2 linked regions of the Homo sapiens genome follow. The protein of the gene in region 2 interacts with the protein of the main gene of each other region in a biochemical or structural test. Each region holds a gene or a part of one and is shown on either strand. Other genes may lie near its edges. The genes, in order: CD1D and LILRB2.

Region 1 (4,505 bases), on a different chromosome or scaffold from region 2:
TAGCAAGGCAGACCTGAATCTAAATCCAGCCCGTCCACTTTCTATGTGGCTCCGGGCAGTTAACCTATCTCCGCCTTCATTTCCTCATCTATATAACGAAAAGAGCAGTACTTGCTTCAAAGAAAACTGTGAATGATGAGATGAGATATTATATGCAGATTCATTGGCCCCTACACAGGGAGCACTCAACCAACCAAGCTATCTTTGCTAACCTGCCTTCCCAAAGGCCTGGCTCCCTTTAAGCCAAGGAATGAATCGTCCTGGGATTGTTTATTCGCTGCCTACTTCTGGATCCCTGAGTTTTGTAGTCTTGTTTCTTCTTGTATATAGAGAGCACTATTTCAATCCTTTTAGACTTTCAGGTCTTTATTTCCCTCCTTCCTGTGTCTGGAACCCCTCTCTCTATCCTTTTACTGGGGGCCTCATCTCTGAAACTCCTCTAACCTGGGTATATCAAGCCACATCCCACCCCAGTGCCTCCCTCTATGCCTGAGGACCACCTCCTGCCATTTCCAGCTTGGGCCCAGCTTTTTCTCACCCCAGTAGAGGACGATGTCCTGGCCCTCTAGACTGCTGTGCTTCACCCGACAGGACAGGCCAGCTGCCTCCCCAGCCACCACATCCAGGGTTGCTCGGAGATACCATGTCTCGTCAGCATTGGGCAGGATGTCCCCTGGCTGAGTGCCCTGCTGCTCCTGCTCACCCCGCATCCACTTCACCCATACAGGCTTTGGGTAGAATCCTGAGACATGGCACACCAGCAGCAGACGGCCAGGGCCAGGACTGGGGCCACGGGACAGCCAGGCCTTGGGCTTCACTGTATCCAACAAGGGAATGGGGGGGATCTTAAAGTGAAAACTCTGCATTAGAGGCTCCAGGCCTCATATCATCCTTTTTGACTTTCAGGTCTTTATTTCCCTCCTTCCTGTATGCCCCTGACATGTTCACTTCTGGAAATGAAGTCTCCCACAACTTTCAATCCATTTGTCCCACCTTCTTCAGGGAGCCTGCCCTGATACTCCTTCTTCTTCTCTGGTCCCAGCCTCCTATGAATGCCCCTTGTCTGTTCCCCTATAACACCCTTTGTTTTGAAGTAACATATGTAGCCTATTTCAAGCATTGCATTAATTAACATCCCCCTACCAAGCAGGGATCCTAACTAACTGCCTGACACCTTTCACCCCCAGTTGTTCATTAATTGAATTCATAGAACCCAAGAGGTGCTCAGTTGATGTCTGTGAAATGAATAAATACCCTCACCCCTTATCCAGCCCCTCCTGGGCCTTCCTCTTCTTTGAATGCTCAAAGGGATGAGAACCCTGGAATGGAAAAGCCCGTTTGGAGCCCTGAAGTGGAATGCAGGGAGTAAGGAAGGCAGGCTGACCTTGCTTCTTCAGTTCCGACTTCCCTGACTCAAGGAGGCCACTGACAAATTGGGGGCAGGTGCCATTAAGGAGCCACTGCACTGTTTCCCTCGTCCACTTGTCCTGGTTGAGCACTTGAATGGCCAAGTTTACCCAAAGTGGGGCCTCTTGGGTTGGCTCCCAAGAAGTTCCTTGGAAACTCAGGATATCTTTTCCTTGAAATGCTACATGGAAGAAGTTATTTGAGGCGTTCCCAGGGTGCACCTCACAGCCAGCGGACACCTGGAGCTCCAAGGGATCTGTGGAGAGGAATGGAGAAAGATCAAAGAAGGGTTTAAAAGACTGGGAGAGATGAAAGAGAAGAAATTGATGTGCAGGTTATAATGGGGACCCAGACTTCAGGGAAAGGAAAGTAAGTGACCTGGAGTAGGCAGGAACGAGGGACACTTTGAGGAGTCAAAGCCTGGGACATCTCCAGGTAGAAGGGAAATCAGAAGAGGGTGGACAGAGCAGAGAATCTCATCAGGTGGTGCCACAGTCTCCCAGTTGAGTTTCTGTGGCCATTCTCTCCCCTTGGGTACCGGCCCAGGATCCTATCCCTCAGCTCACAGGATAAGCGTAGCATTTTGGCGAATTCCTTCACGTCCCTGGTGAAGCTGCTTCGATAAACCCGAAATATATGCTGCAGCGTCTCCCACTGCTGGTCGCTGAACGTGCCCTGGGACCAAGGCTTCAGAGAGCGGACGGTGTCCGAGTCGTTGCTCCAGCTGTGCGTCTGCAGCTCCCCCAGCCACGCCAAGCCGTCGGTGCGCGTCCAGCTGCTATTGGCGAAGGACGAGATCTGGAGGCAGCGGAGGGGGAAAAGCCTTTGCGGGACTGGGAGAGAATGAAGATTGGAGGCGTGTAGCAAGTGGCCGGGAGAGCAGCCAGCATAAAGAGAAGGAAGAAAGAAACAAGAGGAGATGAGCTTCAGGAGGCGGCTGATGCCAGCGAACTCTGTGCCGCGCTGCCTCTCCCCGGAGCCAGGGAGCAGCGAGTTTTCTACCTAGATCGCGCCAGTGCGTCCCGGGTCTCACCAGTCCCCATCAGGCGTTGCCCTCCCCGTCCCTACCCAGCTCCCTCTCTCCGCCCTCCCGCGAGTGCACTCAAGCGCCCTCGTTCCACCCACCTTCAGCGCTTCCCCAAGCCTGGAGGAGCGCCCAGAGCAGCAGAAACAGCAGGCACCCCATATCGCCCGGCGTGGGGACCTCGCGGAGCGCCGCTGCGCGCCGCCCTCTGACCTGCGCACTCTTCTCCCCCGCCGCTCAGCTCACGTCCCTTTCCGCTGGGTGCCAGCCAATTCCCAAGCCCAGACCCCGGCAGCCCTCCTCGCTGGGCTTGCCGGCGGTTTGCTGCTTCTGCCGAAGGGCGCCCTCGCCCTTAGCTGTGCGAGCTGCAAAGAGGTCGGGGTCCCAGGAATCCTGGCGCCGCCGCTCACTTCAGTAGGTTTCACAACCGGCGTGTCTCAATTTCCTGTTTCAAAGGAGACTTTGGGTCAACGTGTGGGACGCTTTACAACCATTATTTATGTTTTGGAAGCAGGACATAAGGTTGTGTCTGTGTTACAATTCCAACCATGGTAAAAATGCAAAGGGAAAAAAGGATCAAAGTCCTTGCTTTAGCAGTACATGTCTCTAGGTGGAAAGACTATGAGTGATCTTAATTTGCTTTACATCTTTATGTTTTCCAAAATTTCTCAAGTGCAAGTACCACATTTACAATAAAGTAAACGCATGAAAATTAATTTCCTCAGTTGCACATTGAGAGAACTGGATTAGGTTGGCTACAATTCTTTACAACTGTCATATCCCAGGATTCCTCCACCTCAGTGTTCCCTAGCCTCTCTTTCCTCCTGTCATGGTCCTTGCTCTCCCCTCCCCGGCCTCTGCTCTGTCTTCCCTGTCTCCTTTTTGGGGACGCGCCCCCAGACTCTCTTCCTCCTCTCCGCCCTAGGCTCTGCCGGCATACCTTCTCCTCTGGCTCCTGACTCATTCACTTTCCAAATATGCGCCTCTGTCTTAAACAGTAAGTGTAAGATGACAGTGTGTACCTGGACAGCCAACTCGCCACTTCTCACACTGAAAATAAGAAAAAGTGACCAAAAATCGTGGTTCTAAGCCTTAGCTCACCTGGAGGAAAAGACTCCTCTTTGGCAACTCAGAACCTGGGCTGCAGCCTGACACCTCCCTCTCCCTCACTCTTTTTATCCAATCTATCTCCAACTCATCTCTATTTCACTTCTTTTTGAATACCTCTTGAATAAATTCCTTTTTCTATATTTCCACCGTCACCATCACCCTAACCTTTTGACTGATCTCCTGAAGTAGCATTCTTGGGTAGAAAACAAAATCATTAGCACGGCCTGCAAGATTATGCGCCCTCTAGCCCTGGTGTCTACCTTTTGACATCACCTCACACCCCAGCATCATTTGCTCTGTACTGTAGCCTGGCTGTTAGCTTTCAGTTCCTCCACTATGCAAAACCTCTTCCTGACTAAGGTCTCTGCACAAAGTTCCCTCTACATGAAAGCTCTTGACCTTCTCCTCACCTCACCCCCTCCCAATGCCTAGTTATTTCCACTAAGGTATCAGTTCCAAGGTCACTTTCTCAGGGAAGTCTTTCCAGATCTGCCAGACTGTGTGACCCTAGGCAGGAGAAGTAGGGCAGTCCCAACCTCCACTGCTTGTACACTAACTGGCTTTGAGAAGCCATCCTCTCAGCATGTAGCAGAGTTTATAATTATAGAAATGGCCATATGTCTGTCTCCCTCTGTGTCCTCTTCTAAATCAGCTGGAGAGGTGCCAGAAGGCAAGGATCATGTCTCCATAATCTGATTCCTCCCATTCTGCTAACGTTAATGTTTCCCTTCTCCCATATCCTGTTGCAGCAAGAGTCCTAGAGAAAATAGGCTACTGCACCACACTCTAGGCTGGGATCTTGTAGACAGCCCTAACCCAGCCTATCTAATTATGTGTAATTTGCCCAAAAAAGCTTAAAATAACATAGTAACGTGTTCTTGTAACAAATAAGGTGTTAAATTATTAAATTTGGATACAAAATTGCCTAAATAATGGATAGGAGGGAAGCTATGAGAAATAAAAA
Region 2 (2,706 bases):
ACAGTGAGCTCCCTGGGAACACTCACTGGTTGAATGAATGAAGGGGAGCCCAGGGGACCGGGGTGGTTCATTTATTCCTCATCCTCCAGAGGCCTGGGGAGCGCTCTAACAACCAGACGGCCAAACAGAGGATGAGGAGCAGGAAGGGGACCCGGGAGGAGGCCCACGAGGTCCCAGGACAGCAGGAGAGAGTGAGGTCACAGCAGGCGGGAGGCAGCGTGCTGGACAAGGAGGGGTCCACCGTGACGATGCTGAGAGCCGGGGGAAGGAGGACAGAGAAGTCCTGCTGGATTAGATCTGGCACCAGGAGGCCTTTGGTGCCTGGGACAGGGGCGGGGTCTCACCCGAGTGTCCATCTCCACCCCATCTTCAGGCTGTGTGTCCTTCACGGCAGCATCTGCTGGGGCAGAGCAAGGGGTTCGTCTCTTGGGAAGGTTCCCTGGGACCTCTGAGTCCTGCCAGCCCCTGCCCTGCTCCCAGATGGGGCTACTGAGATGCAGGGAGGGGCTGCAATGTCCCTGAGGTCCCACAGTGTGGGGTGAGATGATCTCACCCTGAGCCCCAGACCCTTTCCAGCCGGTGCCCCTTTCCCCATTGCTACGGAAACTTCGGGGCCCCTATCTCCCTCCTGGCTGGTCACCTCTTCCTCTCACTCACAGAGGTTTTCTTCCTGGGCGTCGGCAGCTGGGCTGGACCTGGGGGAGGAATGGGAGCTTTAGGGGCAGTGTATGGGCCACGAGCAGGTGGGAGTCTGGGGTCTTCGGGCAGAATTACCTCCACTGCAGGCCTCTGTCTGTGGGCTCTGGCCCCACAGCCCCTGCAGGATGTTGGAAATCAGCCTTTCTCTGGGCTGGGGGAAGAAGGACAGAGCCTCAGCCCTGGGAACATTGGAGCCCCCTGCCCTGCACACACAGCTCGAAGGTAAGGAAGGAAACCTAAAAACACTCCTGCCTCCATGTTCCAAATGCCTCATGAGATGGACAGAGTCCGAAGGACACTTTACATTTGTAGATGGGACTGAGCCCGGAGGACACTTTATATTTGTAGATGGGACTGACGTTAAGTGCTTTCTCCATTCACCTGGTGAGAAATGCTGGAACAGTTTCTCAAAGCTGCATTTGCCCAGTGGTTTGGATTCTCTTTGGCTGTGCCCTGAGCCCACCCTCGGTCGGCCCACAGGGTTTCCCCTTCCCTACTCACTCGATGTCCAGTGTTTGCCCTGACGTCGATGTCGGAGGATGAGGAAGAGGAGGAGGAGGAGGAGGAGCAGTAGGACGACGGCCACCAAGATGCCGATCACAACCCCCAGGTGCCTTCCCAGACCTTGAGCACGATGATGTCAGGGATGGGGGTGATGTCATTGAAATGAGCGCCTACTGTGTGCAGGTGACTGCTGGACCTTCTGTTCACCACCTCCAACCCCCACAACAGTCGTGCAGCACACAAACATCCACCCCACCCACTCTACAGATGAAAAACTGACGCTCAGAGAGGGGAATCGCCTGCCCCGGGCCCCCAGCCAGGAAGCGGCAGAGCTGGGAAGGGAGCCTGGGAGTCTGACCTGCAGCCCTTGTTCCTGCACCAGAGCCGAGCCCCGGAGCTGCAGGGAAAGAGCCTTACCGTCCTGAACCACGACTCTGCTCCCCTCCCCTGCCCCAGGTCACCGTCTCTGCTGCAGGTGGGACGGGACAGGCCCCCGCGGAATCGAGTCTTGGAGTCTTCCCTGAGGGGCCTCCTCTCCCAGGAGGTCACAGCTGGGAGTGAGAGCTGAAAGGAACTTTCCCACCTGCAGGCCTCTCTCCTTTACACTTGGAGAAACTGAGGCCCAGGCAGGGGAGGAGCCTGTCTACATCACCACCTCCAGAGGAGCCTGAACCTAGGACAGAACCCACCCCTGCCTCCCCGGGACCCCGCCCACCTCCCACTCAGAGCCCCTCACTCACCACTTTGGGGATCCGACCCAGTGGGGGTGAGGGGCTGGTCCTCAGGGCCTGCTGGGTCAGGACGGGGAGGTGAGGGCTGGGGCTGCCCTGCTCCCCACATCAGCCCGGCTGCTCCTCCCCCAGGCTGGGCCCCAACATTTCTCTCTGCCTTGACCCCCCACCCCTCACCAGCCCAGCCTCAGAGCCCTGGGGACCCTGTGGCCCCTCCTCTGGCTCTGCCCAGCTCCCTGGACAGAAGCCCTTGATTGAGTCCCTGAAGGGAATGGGATCCTCCTGGACACTCAAAGCTGCCCTGGGGGTCGCTGCGCTCCCTTCGAGCCAGAGGCCTCAGGGACTCACCAGGTGTGGAGATGGGACCGGTGGGTGGGGGGCTGGAACCCATGGAGGGTCCTGGGTGAAAGAATGAGAGGAGGGTGAGGAGCTGGGGCTTTCCTGAAGTCTCCACCTCAAACCAAATTTCTCTACATGGGCCCTGTGGCCTCCCCAGGCCCCTCCCTCCACCCGCCTCTCCTGTCCATGATGCTGGCGATGCCGCTGAGTGTGCGCAGGCCTGGGAGGGCCTGTTGTCCTCCTTCCCTCTGAGGGTGAGTCTCCCACTGGCTGAGCCCCGCTCAGACCCCCGCTCACTCCATCCCAGCCCAGAGCTCTCCTGGGGGGCAGGGCCTGAGCTGAGCCTTTGAGCTCAGAGAGGACAGGGTCAAGGCCCCCACCTGAGACCACGAGCTCCAGGGGCTCACTGGGGTGAGACAGCAGGTAGGGGTCG

The links.
Region 1: the proteins of LILRB2 (region 2) and CD1D form a complex in vitro, tested with the Homo sapiens proteins (one large-scale study listed by IntAct).

What each region holds. Positions count from the first base shown.
Region 1 is NC_000001.11:158,179,190-158,183,694, reverse strand, and holds the start of CD1D (antigen-presenting glycoprotein CD1d isoform 1 precursor), read right to left. Parts: upstream 2,801-4,505; 5' UTR 2,594-2,800; coding exon 2,533-2,593; intron 2,241-2,532; coding exon 1,974-2,240; intron 1,664-1,973; coding exon 1,385-1,663; coding exon of another isoform or gene 1,261-1,384; intron 818-1,260; coding exon 539-817; intron 1-538. UniProt on the Homo sapiens protein: Antigen-presenting protein that binds self and non-self glycolipids and presents them to T-cell receptors on natural killer T-cells.
Region 2 is NC_000019.10:54,275,607-54,278,312, forward strand, and holds part of LILRB2 (leukocyte immunoglobulin-like receptor subfamily B member 2 isoform 2 precursor), read right to left. Parts: coding exon 2,654-2,706; intron 2,334-2,653; coding exon 2,283-2,333; intron 1,995-2,282; coding exon of another isoform or gene 1,992-1,994; coding exon 1,944-1,991; coding exon of another isoform or gene 1,936-1,943; exon of another isoform or gene 1,930-1,935; intron 1,374-1,929; exon of another isoform or gene 1,324-1,373; coding exon 1,201-1,323; intron 851-1,200; coding exon 775-850; intron 696-774; coding exon 658-695; intron 398-657; coding exon 345-397; intron 1-344. UniProt on the Homo sapiens protein: Receptor for class I MHC antigens. Recognizes a broad spectrum of HLA-A, HLA-B, HLA-C, HLA-G and HLA-F alleles. Involved in the down-regulation of the immune response and the development of tolerance.